3 separate regions of the Homo sapiens genome follow, and all the other regions are linked to region 1. Evidence: fine-mapped expression QTL. A gene starts in region 1. Each other region holds a variant in brackets. All regions are shown on one strand. Distances are from middle to middle. Region 1 holds the start of LINC01719 (long intergenic non-protein coding RNA 1719). Region 2 has its middle 7.2 kb from the start of HJV. Region 3 holds the start of HJV (hemojuvelin BMP co-receptor).

Evidence for each region. PIP is the estimated chance that this variant, and not a neighbour inherited with it, causes the effect. A credible set is the group of variants that fine-mapping cannot tell apart.
Region 2: its variant is the best candidate, but not a certain one, in a credible set for the expression of LINC01719 in T cells (TOPMed, PIP 0.70).
Region 3: its variant is the best candidate, but not a certain one, in a credible set for the expression of LINC01719 in amygdala (GTEx, PIP 0.51).

What each region holds. Positions count from the first base shown.
Region 1 is chr1:146,050,223-146,054,465 of GRCh38, reverse strand. LINC01719 (long intergenic non-protein coding RNA 1719) reads right to left here and starts at 1,870. Exons shown (of 3, transcript NR_125968.1): 1 at 1,518-1,870. RNVU1-6 (RNA, variant U1 small nuclear 6) reads left to right here and starts at 2,222; the gene lies at 2,222-2,385. RefSeq lists enhancers at 1,552-2,283, 2,284-3,012 and a silencer at 2,133-2,372.
Region 2 is chr1:146,012,444-146,016,686 of GRCh38, reverse strand. No RefSeq gene overlaps it. Among named protein-coding and RNA genes, the nearest start is that of HJV, 7.2 kb to the left of the region's middle. The variant C/T (reference allele first, on the strand shown) is at 2,359.
Region 3 is chr1:146,021,127-146,025,369 of GRCh38, reverse strand. It overlaps HJV (hemojuvelin BMP co-receptor), which reads left to right and starts at 3,635. Exons shown (of 4, transcript NM_213653.4): 1 at 3,635-3,783. The variant T/C (reference allele first, on the strand shown) is at 2,080.

The DNA.
Region 1 (4,243 bases):
TAAGTTTGTTTTATAGAATGGCTTGACCTCAGGAGTTTGAAACCAGCCTGGGCAATATGGTGAAACCCTGTCTCTACCAAAATACAAAAAGAAAAAGAGGGTTGCTTCCAAGATGGCTGAATAGGAACAGCTCCGGTCTACAGCTTCAAGTGAGATAGACGCAGAAGACAGGTGATTTCTGCATTTCCAACTGAGGTACCTGGTTCATCTCACTGGGACTCGTTGGACAGTGGATGCAGCCCACGGAGGATGAGCCAAAGCAGGGTGGGGTGTCGCCTCACCCGGGAAGTGCAAGGGGTTGGGGGATTTCTTTTTCCTAGCCAAGGGAAGCTGTGAGTGACTGTACCTCGAGAAGCAGTACACCCCTGCCCAAATACTGTGCTTTTTTCCACTGTCTTTGCAACCGACAGACCAGGAGATTCCCTCTTGTGCCTGGCTCGGCAGGTCCCATGCCCATGGAGCCTTGCCTGCTGCTAGCACAGCAGTCTGAGATCAACCTGTGACACTGGAGCATGGCAGGGGGAGGGGGTTCTGCCACTGCTGAGGCTTGAGTATGTGGTTCTATGGTCACAGTGTAAATAAAGTGGTAGGGAAGCTCGAACTGGGTAGAGCCCACTGCAGCTCAGCAAGGCCTACTGCCTCTAGATTCCACCTCTGGGGGCAGGGCATATCTGAATAAAAGGCAGCAGACAGCTTCTGCAGACTTAAACGTCCCTGCCTGACAGCAGGGACTGCTGTCATAATCATTATGATTATGAATCATAATCATGAAGACAATCTGTATTCCAGAATAGTAAGGGAACCTATTCCATCAGGGAGCCAACTGAAAACATCAAATCCCAGTTCACACCCCAGGGTGTGGTGTCATGCACCTGTAGTCCCAGCTACTTGGGAGGATTAGTAAGGAGGTTTGCTTGAATTCGTGAGGTCAAGGCAGAAGTAAACCCTGATCATGCCACTGTACTCCAACCTGGGCGACAGTGAGACCTTGTCTCAGAAACAAACAAACAAACAAAAAACCCCACAAAACCAAACAACAACAAATTGTCACCTCATTCTGAAATGACAGTGGCAAACATCACTTTGCTATTTGAAAATTAAAAGAAGCCGGGCGCGGTGGCTCACGCCTGTAATCCCAGCACTTTGGGAGGCCGAGGTGGGCGGATCACAAGGTCAGGAGATCGAGACCATCCTGGCTAACAGAGTGAAACCCCATCTCTACTAAAAATACAAAAAATTAGCCGGACGTGGTGGCAGGTGCCTGTAATCCCAGCTACTGGGGAGGCTGAGGCAGGAGAATGGCGTGAACCCGGGAGGCGGAGCTTGCAGTGAGCCGAGATAGCCCCACTGCACTCCAGCCTGAGCGAAGAGCGCGAGACTCCGTCTCAAAACAAAAAAAAAGAAAATTAAAAGAAAAACACTCCCTCTTGCTATCAACCTGCCCTCTTGCTCTAACTTGTCTGACCCATGGTTTAAAATGCCCAAAAGCTGATGTACTCAAATTATAGTACACTTACCTGTTCTGCACCAGCATTTACTTTTGTCTGGAGGAGATCACCATGCATGGTCCTATACATGTCTAATGGCATGGAATGATGAAGGGTAGTGTCTTTTAGGATAGTTGGATACATATATATATATATATATATATATATATATATATATATGCGGAATGCTACATCACAAGAATAAGAATGTGAAAAGAACCAGTTTCTTTTGTAATCCTAAACGTTCTAGTCTGAGAATTAAAAGCCATTGTTCGAAGAAGGGTGCCCAGGGTCCAGCTGGTCGCCGAAAGCTTGCTCCGCAATACAGGCTAAGGACCAGCTTCTTTGGAAGAGAACAGATGAGGGAAGCAGGAGAGAAAAAAGGGAGAGGCAGACGTCACTTCCCCTTGCCGGCTCCGGCAGCGGGTTGGTCGGCTGAGCGGCAGAAAGGCAGACGGGGACTGGGAAAGGCGCTGTCGGTGACATCACGGATAGGGCGACTTCTATGTAGATGAGCCAGCGCAGGGGCTGCTGCTTCGCCACATGCTGCTTCGCCACGAAGGAGTTCCCGTGCCGTGGGAGCGGGTTCAGGACCGCTGGTCGGACCTGAGAGTCCCAGCTGTGTGTCAGGGCTAGGAGGGCTGGGGGGGAGGGGGGTGTGCGCGGGGCAAGTGACCGTGCGTGTAAAGGGTGAAGCGTGTGAGGCTGCCGGCGGGGCGGAGGTGCAATAACTCATACTTACCTGGCAGGAGAGATACCCTGGTCACGAAGGTGGTTTTTCCAGAGCGAGTCTTATCCATTGCACTCCGGATCTGCTGACCCCTGCAGTTTCCCCAAATGTGGGAAACTTGACTGTATAATTTGTGGCAGTGGTAGACTGCATTCGCGCTTTCCCCTGTATTTTTGTCGTTTTAAAAATAGGTTTTGTTTGCTGCAGAAACGCATACTGGGCGTCAGCGTAAGCTGAGAATCAGGTCTTTGTTCCCATCTGTAACTTCACTGAAACTAAAAATTTGGGACATCGTGGTTCTCACGTTTGTAATCCCAGCAATCTATGAGGTACGTCGATAGGTTATGTTTATGTTAATATCGCTCGACCTCAGGCGTGTGTGGGCAAATATAGTGAACCCGTCTCTACTAATCTCTTATCTTTTTTTGTTGTTGTTCTATAGAAATAAAACTAAGCTTTTCTTTTCCCTATGGGATTAACAGCAAACAGTCCGCTGGAGTGTATGGCGCGATCTCGCCTTACTGCAACCTTTGCCTCCTGCGTTCAAGCTATTCTCCTTCCTCAACCAGAGAATACTCAGCCTCCCGAGTAACTGGCATTACAGGCTCAGGCAACCAAAAAATTAGGTCCGGCTAATTTTTTGAATTTTTAGTAGAGACATGGTTTCACCGGGCCGGGCGCACTGGCTCGCGCCTGTAATCCCAGCACTTTGGGAGGCGGAAGCGGGTGGATCATGAGGTCAGGAGGTCAAGACCATCCTGGCTAACACAGTGAAACCCCATCTCTAATAAAAATACAAAAAAAAAAAATTAGCCGGGTGTGGTGGCACGTGCCTGTAGTCCCAGCTACTCAGGAGGCTGAGGCAAGAGAATCGCTTGAACCCGGGAGGCAGAGGTTGCAGTGAGCTGAGATCGCACCACTGCACTCCAGCCTGGGCGACAGAGTGAGACTCCGTCTCAAAAAAAAAAAAAAAAAAAAAGAGTGACAGGGTTTCACCATGTTGGCCACCCTGGTCTTGAACTCCTGACCTCAAGTTTTCCGCCTGCCTCGCGGCCTCCCAAAATGTTGGGATTACAGGCCTGAGCCACCGCACCTGGCCTGTTTACAGACTTTACAGACACATTTTGTTTACAAGCTTTACAGGTACAGTTCAATTGCGATTAGTGTATATTATGTTTGGCCCAAGACAAGTGTCTTTTTTTTTTTTCCAGTGTGGCCCAAGGAAGCCAAAATTTAGACAACCCTGCTCTAGAGGGTTTGATTCATGGTTCCACTGGGTTATGCTTATTGCCTATAATTCCATTTGATATTTTCCAAATTTGATTTTTTAAAAAGCGTTTTCCTGAAGCACCCTAAAGCTTTCCTAATAATATGAGAACTTAAACCAGATTGGATGTGACAAAACCCTGCTGGAATCCTGCAACTTCTAACCTTAATGTTAGATCAAGAAGCAAAACACCCACCAGTCCAAGGGTCAGGGAAGCTGAAGATCATGCCTGAGCTGTAACAACGCCCTTCCCAGTATACAAAAGAGTGTAACAGCCACTCGAATTCTATCTTCCAAGTGTCTCCTGTTGCCCAGGCTAACCTAGAGCTATCTAAAGATGGCAAATCTGGGAAATGTGCATTCAGCTTGGCAAAACTGATACATTACAAATCCACCACAGTCCACTTCTTCTCAAAGTGGCATCAATGTACATCTTCCTCCTCTTCTTTTTTTCCTCCTCTTCCTCTTCTTTTGCTTCTTCCTCCTCCTTTTTCCTCCTTGTAAAATCATACTTAAGGTTCAAATAAAGACAATATGAAAATCATACTTTTTCTCATTCAGTGAAAATATGCCAACCCTTTCCCCAACAGGATAAAGTCTTTGTCTTTGAATGATGTTCACTCCTTTTTTAGCTAGATAGATCACATTCCATATTTGCTTTCCTGTAACCTAAATATTGAGATTTCTAAAAGTTAATTATTAATGAATGTGCTAGCTAGGGTGATGGAAGAGGAGAATTCTCAAGAAAAGTTTTGGTTA
Region 2 (4,243 bases), 38 kb after region 1:
GAGCTGGTAAAGATTCTAAAAGGGGAGTTGTGGTGGTCAATGTCACCACAAAAGCTACTCTGAGGCTGGGCGCGGTGGCTGACACCTGTAATCCAGCACTTTGGTAGGCCAATGTGGGTGGATCACTTGAGGCCAGGAGTTCGAGACCAGCCTGGGCAACATGGTAAAACCCCATCTCTACTAAAAATACAAGAAATTTGCCAGGCATGATAGTCCATGCCTGTAATCCTGTAATCCAAGCTACTCAGGAGGCAGAGGCATGAGAATCGAGAATTGCTTGAACCCGGGCCAGGAGGCAGAGGTTGCAGTGAGCTGAGACCACGCCACTGCACTCCAGCCTGGGCAACAGAGTGAGACTATCAAACAAAAAACAACTACTCTCTTCTCATATTCTCATATAAAGCCAAAAAGAGAGAGTTGGAAAAGGAGGGAAAGCCCAAAGTTGAAGGAATCTAGTTTGTAGAAGAAAGACTGAGAAGAAATGCTGTTCTAGATGAGGGTGCTCTAAAGTAACAATGCTGCTCTGAACAAAATTATGAAGGAGGTAACTTTTACATTTAATATCTTCCCTGTTTCTGGTCTCATCCTCCCCTCTCAGGTACTCCATAACCGAGGACCTGTCCTCCCTGCCCTAATCAAGTACTCACCATTATCTTCCACCTCTCCTCTCAGTCCCTGACACCCGACAATACTCCCCTGAACAAATATTACAGTAGGGCCCTTTGTATCTACTAATTCTGCATCCACAGATTCAACCAACCACGCACTGAAAATATTTGGGAAGTAGCCGAGCGCAGTGGCTCACACCTGTAATCCCAGCACTTTGGGAGGCTGAGGCGGGTGGATCACAAGGTCAGGAGTTTGAGACCAGCCTGACCAACATGGTGAAACCCCATCTCTACTAAAAATACAAAAAATTAGCCAGGTGTGCTGGTGGGAGCCTGTAGTCCCAGCTATTCGGGAAGCTGAGGCAGGAGAATGGCGTGAACCCCGGAGGCGGAGCTTGCCGTGAGCGGAGATCGCGCCACTGCACTCCAGCCTGGGCGACAGAGCGAGACTCCGTCTCAAAAAAAAAAAAAAAAAAAAGTAAATAAGGCTAGCTCTAAGCCCGCGCGAAGGAAGAGTATTACATGACAGGTGTCATCAAAGAATTTCACTTACCACTTGGCTGTGAAATTCTTTTTTTTTTTTTTTTTTTTTTGAGACGGAGTCTCGCTCTGTCGCCCAGGCTGGAGTGCAGTGGCGCAATCTCGCAATCTCGGCTCACTGCAAGCTCCGCCTCCCGGGTTCAGGCCATTCTCCTGCCTGAGCGTCCCGAGTAGCTGGGACTACAGGCGCCCGCCACCACGCCCAGCTAATTTTTTTGTATTTTTAGTAGAGACGGGGTTTCACCGTGTTGGCCAGGATGGTCTCGATCTCCTGACCTCGTGATTCGCCCGCCTCGGCCTCCCAAAGTGCTGGGATTACAGGCGTGCGCCACCGCGCCCAGCCGAAATTCTTCTCAATTCACTTGAAATTCCCACACCTGAGGGATAAAGTTACTCTTTTAAGAGAACCAATACAAAGAGTATTTCTTCAAAAGGATGTTTTGAGTTAAAATACCTATATTTTCTGTGAAGTGAAGAGACAGCCCTGGATATGTCTCTTCCCCCAATTTTTTTTTCTTCATTACAACACATTATTTTCTCCATTAGCTAAAGGTTACTTTGGAAAGCATAGAGACAGTGCTTTGAGGGAATGGCAGAATGGCTGTGGTCCTTAAAAGAGGTGGAGAGGAGGGAATAGAGGATAAAGAATTGCAGGAGAAATTTGAAATGGCAGACCAGATACGTCTCGAACTCCTGGCCTCAAGTGATCTGCTCGCCTCAGCCTCCCAAAATGCTGGGATTATAGGCATGAGCCACCATGCCCAGCCCAACTAGCCCTATTATTAATGGAGCATTTTTAAATAGGTAGCTCAAAATAAGCATATGAAAAGATGCTCAACATCATTAGTCACTGGGGAAATACAAATCAAATGAAAACAACAATGAAAAAATACTACATACCCACTAGAATGGTTAAAATGGAAAAGACTGTTAAATAAAATACAAAATGTTAGGAAAATGTGGAGCTTTCATGTGCTGTTGGTGGGAATGTAAAATGGTACAACTACTTTGTAAAACAGTTTGGCAGTTCGTTAAAAGGTAAGTGTACACTTACCATACAAACCAGACATTCCAAACTTAGGTACTGACCCAAGAGAAATGATAACATGTGCTGCACAAAAACTTATATACAAATGCTTATAACAGTTTTATCTGTAATAACCAAAAACTGGAAACAACTCAATGTTGAAATGGTGAATGGATACACCAA[C/T]TGCAGTAAATTCACATAATTGAATACACAGCAATAAAATGAAATTAATTCCTGATATACACAACATGGATAAATCTCAAAGTAATTATGCAAGTGAAAAAAGCTGTTGCCCCGCAAAAAAAAAAAAAGAGTATATACCATCTGCTTCCATTCATATCAAATTATTAAAAATCTTCAGCAGATCATGGACTGTAAAAATATATAAAATGTTAGCAAACATATAGTGAGAAAAGGTGATCAATGGTTGCTTAAGGAATGGGCAGAGTGAAGGAGGGATGGCTTACAAAGGGGCATGAAGTAGGCCGGATGCGGTGGCTCACACCAGCAATCCCAGCATTTTGGGAGGCTTAGGAGGGTGGATAACTTGAAGCCAGGGGTTTGAGACCAGCCTGGCCAACATGGCAGAACCCTGTCTCTAATAAAAAGCCCTGTCTCTACTAAAAACCCTGTCTCCACTAAAAACCCTGTCTCCACTAAAATGCCCTGTCTCTACTGGGTGTGGTAGCATGAGCCTGAAATCCCAGTTACTCAGGAGGCTGAGGCACAAGAATCGCTTGAACCCAGGAGGTGGAGGTTGCACAAAGCCGACATCACGTGACTGCACTCCAGCCTACGCGATACAGCAAGACTCTGTCTCAAAACAACCCAAAGGGGCATGACGAAACTCATGGGGGTGATAGATATGTTCATCATTTTGATTGTGACAGTGGTTTCATGGATATATATATATATTTGTATATGTCAAAACCCATGAAATGACACACCTTAAATATGTACAATTTATCATACACCAAGTATACGTCAATAAAGCTGTAGTTTTTTTTTTTTTTAATTGAGTAGCACATCTTTCTCTCTTTTCTTGGTAGATCAGACAAAAGGCTTAGAATGACCATAGCATGACAAGGAAGATTACAACAGAGACTTTTCTTCTTCTAGGAAACATACAAAAGAAGAGGATAACAGAACAAAGGAAAGACCTTATTTAGTGATTTTATATTCTCCGCTACTCCTATGACAAGGACCACATTCCTTCCTCCAGAATGTCATTCTCAAAGTCAGAGACCACAGAAAGGAGATTTTCCGATTTAAGAACATCAACCCTGTGAATCATAATTCTGTCTTTCCACTTCACCAAGAGTCAGCAGGTGGTGCTAGTGACTAAAAAGTGACTTGGCAGACAATGAGGCAAGTTTCCAGGAAAAGAAAAATTATCGTCTAAGATTATCTGATATGTTGACCATTTGAAAGAAAATATTAATAGGCATTTGCCAGAATTGACATTTAGGAAATAAACTGAAGATAGGTACATAGTAAACAAAGTAAAATTTTAAATAAATTATAATTTAACAATAAAGGGTTGTTCAAGACATGAAACAATCAATATATACTACTTGGCTCCTCAATGGATATCATTTACACAGTAATACTAATGTAAACACTGACTATTGATTCAGCCAGAACTATGCTATAACTTTCTATTGGGAGGATGAGGTAAGGGGAAAGGAAAGGTGGGAATATAGCATGATGTAAGAGTTAAAATTTCAATTACTATAACCATAAGAGAGTAGATATGTCTAATATTTATTTTGTTTCCTTTTTTTTTTTTTTTTTTGAGACAAGAGTCTCTCACTGTTGCCCAGGCTGGAGTGCAGTGGCGCAATCTCAGCTCACTGCAACCTCTGCATCCCGGGTTCAAGCGATTCTCCTGCCTCAGCCTCCCAAGTAGCTGCGACTACAGGCATGCACCACCAGGCCCGTCTACTTTTTGTATTTTTAGTAGAGATGGGTTTCACCATGTTGGTCAGGCTGGTCTCAAACTCCTGACCTCAAGAGATCCATCCACCTCAGCCTCTCAAAATATATATGTAATGTTAGCACATATATA
Region 3 (4,243 bases), 29 kb after region 1:
CTTGAGCCCAGGAGTTCGAGACCAGCCTGGCCAACATGGCAAAACCCCATCTCTACTAAAAATACAAAATTAGCTGAGTGTGATGACACATGCCTGTAATCCTAGCTACTCAGGTGGCTGAGGCATGAGAATCACTTGAACCCAGGTGGCAGAGGCTGCAGTGAGCCGAGATCTCTGGGTGACAGAGGGAGACCCTGTCTCAAAAGAAAAAGAAAAGAAAGAACGAACCCAGGTCATTTGTCCTGTAGAGTATTCACAAAGTCTGAATTTGCACCTTTGAGTTACCACTTAATGTCTCCTGTATTTCCTGTAAATTAGTAGTTAGCTCTAATCAGATTCAGACTGGTTTGTTTGTTTGTTTGTTTGTTTGTTTGTTTTTGGTATGGCTACTTCATGCAAGGTGGAGTTATGTACTCTATGATCAGGAAAACATGTTTATCTCTGTTTTCATGATGAATAACAGCCACTGTTTTTTTGTTTACGTAGAGATGGGCTCTTACTATGTTGTCCAGGCTGGTTTTGAACTCCTGGGCTTAAGCAATCCTCCCACCTCAGCCTCCCAAAATGCTGGGATTACAGGTGTGAGCCACTGTGCCCTGCCACAGTCATTGTTGACCATTGCCTAGATATATTAATTCATTTGGATTTACAAAATGTTGATATTCTAATTATATTATCCCTTCTTCAATTATTTACTGGAATGCTTCTATAAAGAGAAATTTCCCCCTCATCTTGAGATACAGTTCCCAAAAGAAAACCAGGATAAATACTTGATTCTTTCCAATTACCAGCAGTTTTTAAAATAATGAGTTGATCTGCCAGCATTCTCCAACAATGACCAATGGGTTTGTATTTTTAAGTATCATTGTGAATTCATGGATTTAAACATATTTTATGAATTTCAATCCATTGCAGATAGTATCCATTTTGATACTTAAATTGCCCCATCTTTGGCCAATGGGAACTATTCTAGTTGGCTCCTAAGTTCTTTTATTACAATCCTAACACTCTTTGAAAGCTTCCTTGCCTATCTTGGACAATACCTGCCCCAAACCTGAAATCAGCCACTTATCCAAGGAGTTGTTTGTTGGTCCCTTTTAACAGAAAATGGTATTTACATAGCACAATTTGAGTACTAGAGGTGTTTATTTTTACTGGATCATTGTTTCCAGGCCTTTTTAGGGTAAAGCTAGGAAAATTTTAAGGATAAAATAAACCATGAGTTCAGAGTTATATTTGCAATTTAAATTCAGAATTACGGAGTTTTCTCTTAACTTCATCAATCGTAAATATGTATCTCTTTATTCCACCCCAAAAATTCTGGTTCTCAGAGACACTAACATTATTAATCATTTGTTTTATCTCATAACTAAAATAATCTCAGAATAACAATACCAACACTAACACCATAATATGGCTATTTAAAAATATTTTTGCATTTATTTTCTGGCATTATAGTATATCCCACTTAGGCTGTCATAGTCAAATTATTATGTTTTAAAGTCACTTGAATAGTTTGGTTAGAAGCATTTTACATTTCTATAATGAAACTGCTTGTGATATGGCCTCTAATGGTTGAGAAATATTTGTCATATATATATACCTGAGAAGTATATATTTGACAAAAATATTTGTCATATATATACCTGAGAAGAGTGCTATGAGGGCCTCTAGACTCTGTATTAAAATAGAGCCAACTGGTAAAGATGGCTTAGTGATTGTGTTGGTTATTACTGAGTGTCAATTTGATTGGATTGAAGGATACAAAGTATTGATCCTGGGTGTGTCTGTGAGGGTGTTGCCAAAAGAAATTAACATTTGAGTCAGTGGGCTGGGAAAGGCAGATCCACCCTTAATCTGGGTGAGCACAATCTAATTCACTGCCAGCACAGCTAGAATAAAAAGCAGGCAGAAAAATATGAAAGGAGAGACTGGCCTAGCCTCCCAGCCTACATATTTCTCCCATGCTGGATGCTTCCTGCCCTTGAACATCAGACTCCAAGTTCTTCAATTTTGAGACTGAGACTGGCTCTCCTTGCCCCTCAAGCTTGCAGACAGCCTACTGTGGGACCCTGTGAT[T/C]GTGTAAGTTAATACTTAATAAATTCCCCTTTATTTATATATCTACCTATATAGATATCCATATCTATATAGATATTAATAAATCTAGAGAGACAGAAAGCAGACTGGTGATGGCCAGTCTAGATGGCTAGATAGATAGACATGGATATAGATATAGATCTCTATATAGATAGAGGTAGATACAGATATAGATATATGCCCTATTAGTTCTGTTCCTCTAGAGAACCCTAATACAGTGACCGTATTTGGAATCGGTCCTTCTGTTAATTTCACTTGGCAAGTACTAAAAGATGATGATCTCAGATATACCTATGGCTGCAAAAACATGACATGGCTAAATCCCTTGGTTGCAGTATCTCTTTTCTTTTTTAAGGGGGGTGGGGGGGCGGGTCTCACTGTTGCCCAGGCTGGAGTGCAATGGCGTTATCATAGCTCACTGCAGCCTCAAACTCCTGCGCTCAAGTGACCCTCCTGCCTCAGCTCCCAAAGTGCTGAGATTTTGCAATATTTATGGTCACAAGATTATGTTATTCCATAAAAGTATCTTTCTGAGGCTAGGCATGTTGGTTCACACTTGTAATCCCAGCACTCTGAGAGGCTGAGATGGAAGGATTCATTGAGGCAAGGAGTTCAAGACCAGCCTGGTCAACATAGTGAGACCTCATCTCGGAAGGAAGGAAGGAAGGAGGGAGGGAGGGAGGGAGGGAGTGAAGGAAGGAAGGAAGGAAGGAAGGAAGGAAGGAAGGAAGGAAGGAAAAGTATATTTTTGAATCTTTTTCTATTTCTCCAACTCTTTCTTTAGAAGAATTCTATTTCCATTCTTTCTTCACCTCTTTGCCTTTGTTAGCCTTCTCTCCAAGCAAATCGGGAGCCTTTATTTTTTGTGTATTCATGAGGGAGAGGAAGATGAATTGCTGTACAAACTAAAGTAATGAAAATGGAGTAGGTAGGAGGATAGACAGCTGCAAGGATCTGAGCTGGATAGACTGAACAAACCCTCATCCTAAGCAACTCACAGCTCAGATTTCTTCTCTGGACAGCTGGCTTTTTTCGTCCTTCTGAAATACTCTGCAAAGATAGGAGAGGGGCTATGAACTACCTCTGCTATGGATCTTATTCAAAGTCAGCTACCTCCTAGATACTATCTGTAGAACCTAAATGTAATATTCAGCATAGCAGGGATGAACATGGTAAATGAAAGGTATCCAATTGCCCACTGTAATTTTTAAAGGCCAGGAGCTCAACATTATTGAAAATGCTGGAGGGCTGCCTGGAGTAGGCAGTGACCACAGAGTCACACAAGCTGGAATTGGATATCCAACTTGTCTGTCATATTTCTCTCCTCCCTCCCTGACTTGGCACTCAATACTCCATATTCTTTCTAATCCTCTAACCCTCCCCACTCCCCCAACTCCCACACCCTACCCCCACCAACGTTCCTGGAATTTTGGACTTAGCTATTTTTAAAACCGTCAACTCAGTAGCCACCTCCCTCCCTGCTCAGCTGTCCAGTACTCTGGCCAGCCATATACTCCCCCTTCCCCCCATACCAAACCTTCTCTGGTTCCCTGACCTCAGTGAGACAGCAGCCGGCCTGGGGACCTGGGGGAGACACGGAGGACCCCCTGGCTGGAGCTGACCCACAGAGTAGGGAATCATGGCTGGAGAATTGGATAGCAGAGTAATGTTTGACCTCTGGAAACAGTAAGTCAAAATGAAATTGCAATTCCTTTAATAAGCTTTTATATTGAAGTTAGACTTTTATAAAATTACAAACACCTACTTGGATGTCTCTCGTCCAAATGCTGGGATCTCTCCCTACCAAGGTGCCCCAATCTCCATTTCTCTTTCTGTCTTATTTCTTTCTGGCCTCTGGCCTCTAGCTTTTTGAAGTTTAATTCTCTGTCTCTCCTCTGGCAGTCTTAGCCCTCTCTTTACCTTATTACCTCAAGACTCCTGATGAAGTTTTAGAAGGAGTTCCCTACGTCCTCTATTCTGTAGTTTTCTTACCAAGGCCAAATATGACCTCAGATGATGAGTCACTGATACCCTTCTATCCTGCCCCCACTTAGCAATGCCCTTCACATTGAGATTCCAAGCATGGGGGCTGCTCCCTGTAAATGATTTCTCCCCACAACTCTAGTCCCTCCATTCTATTCTCCCT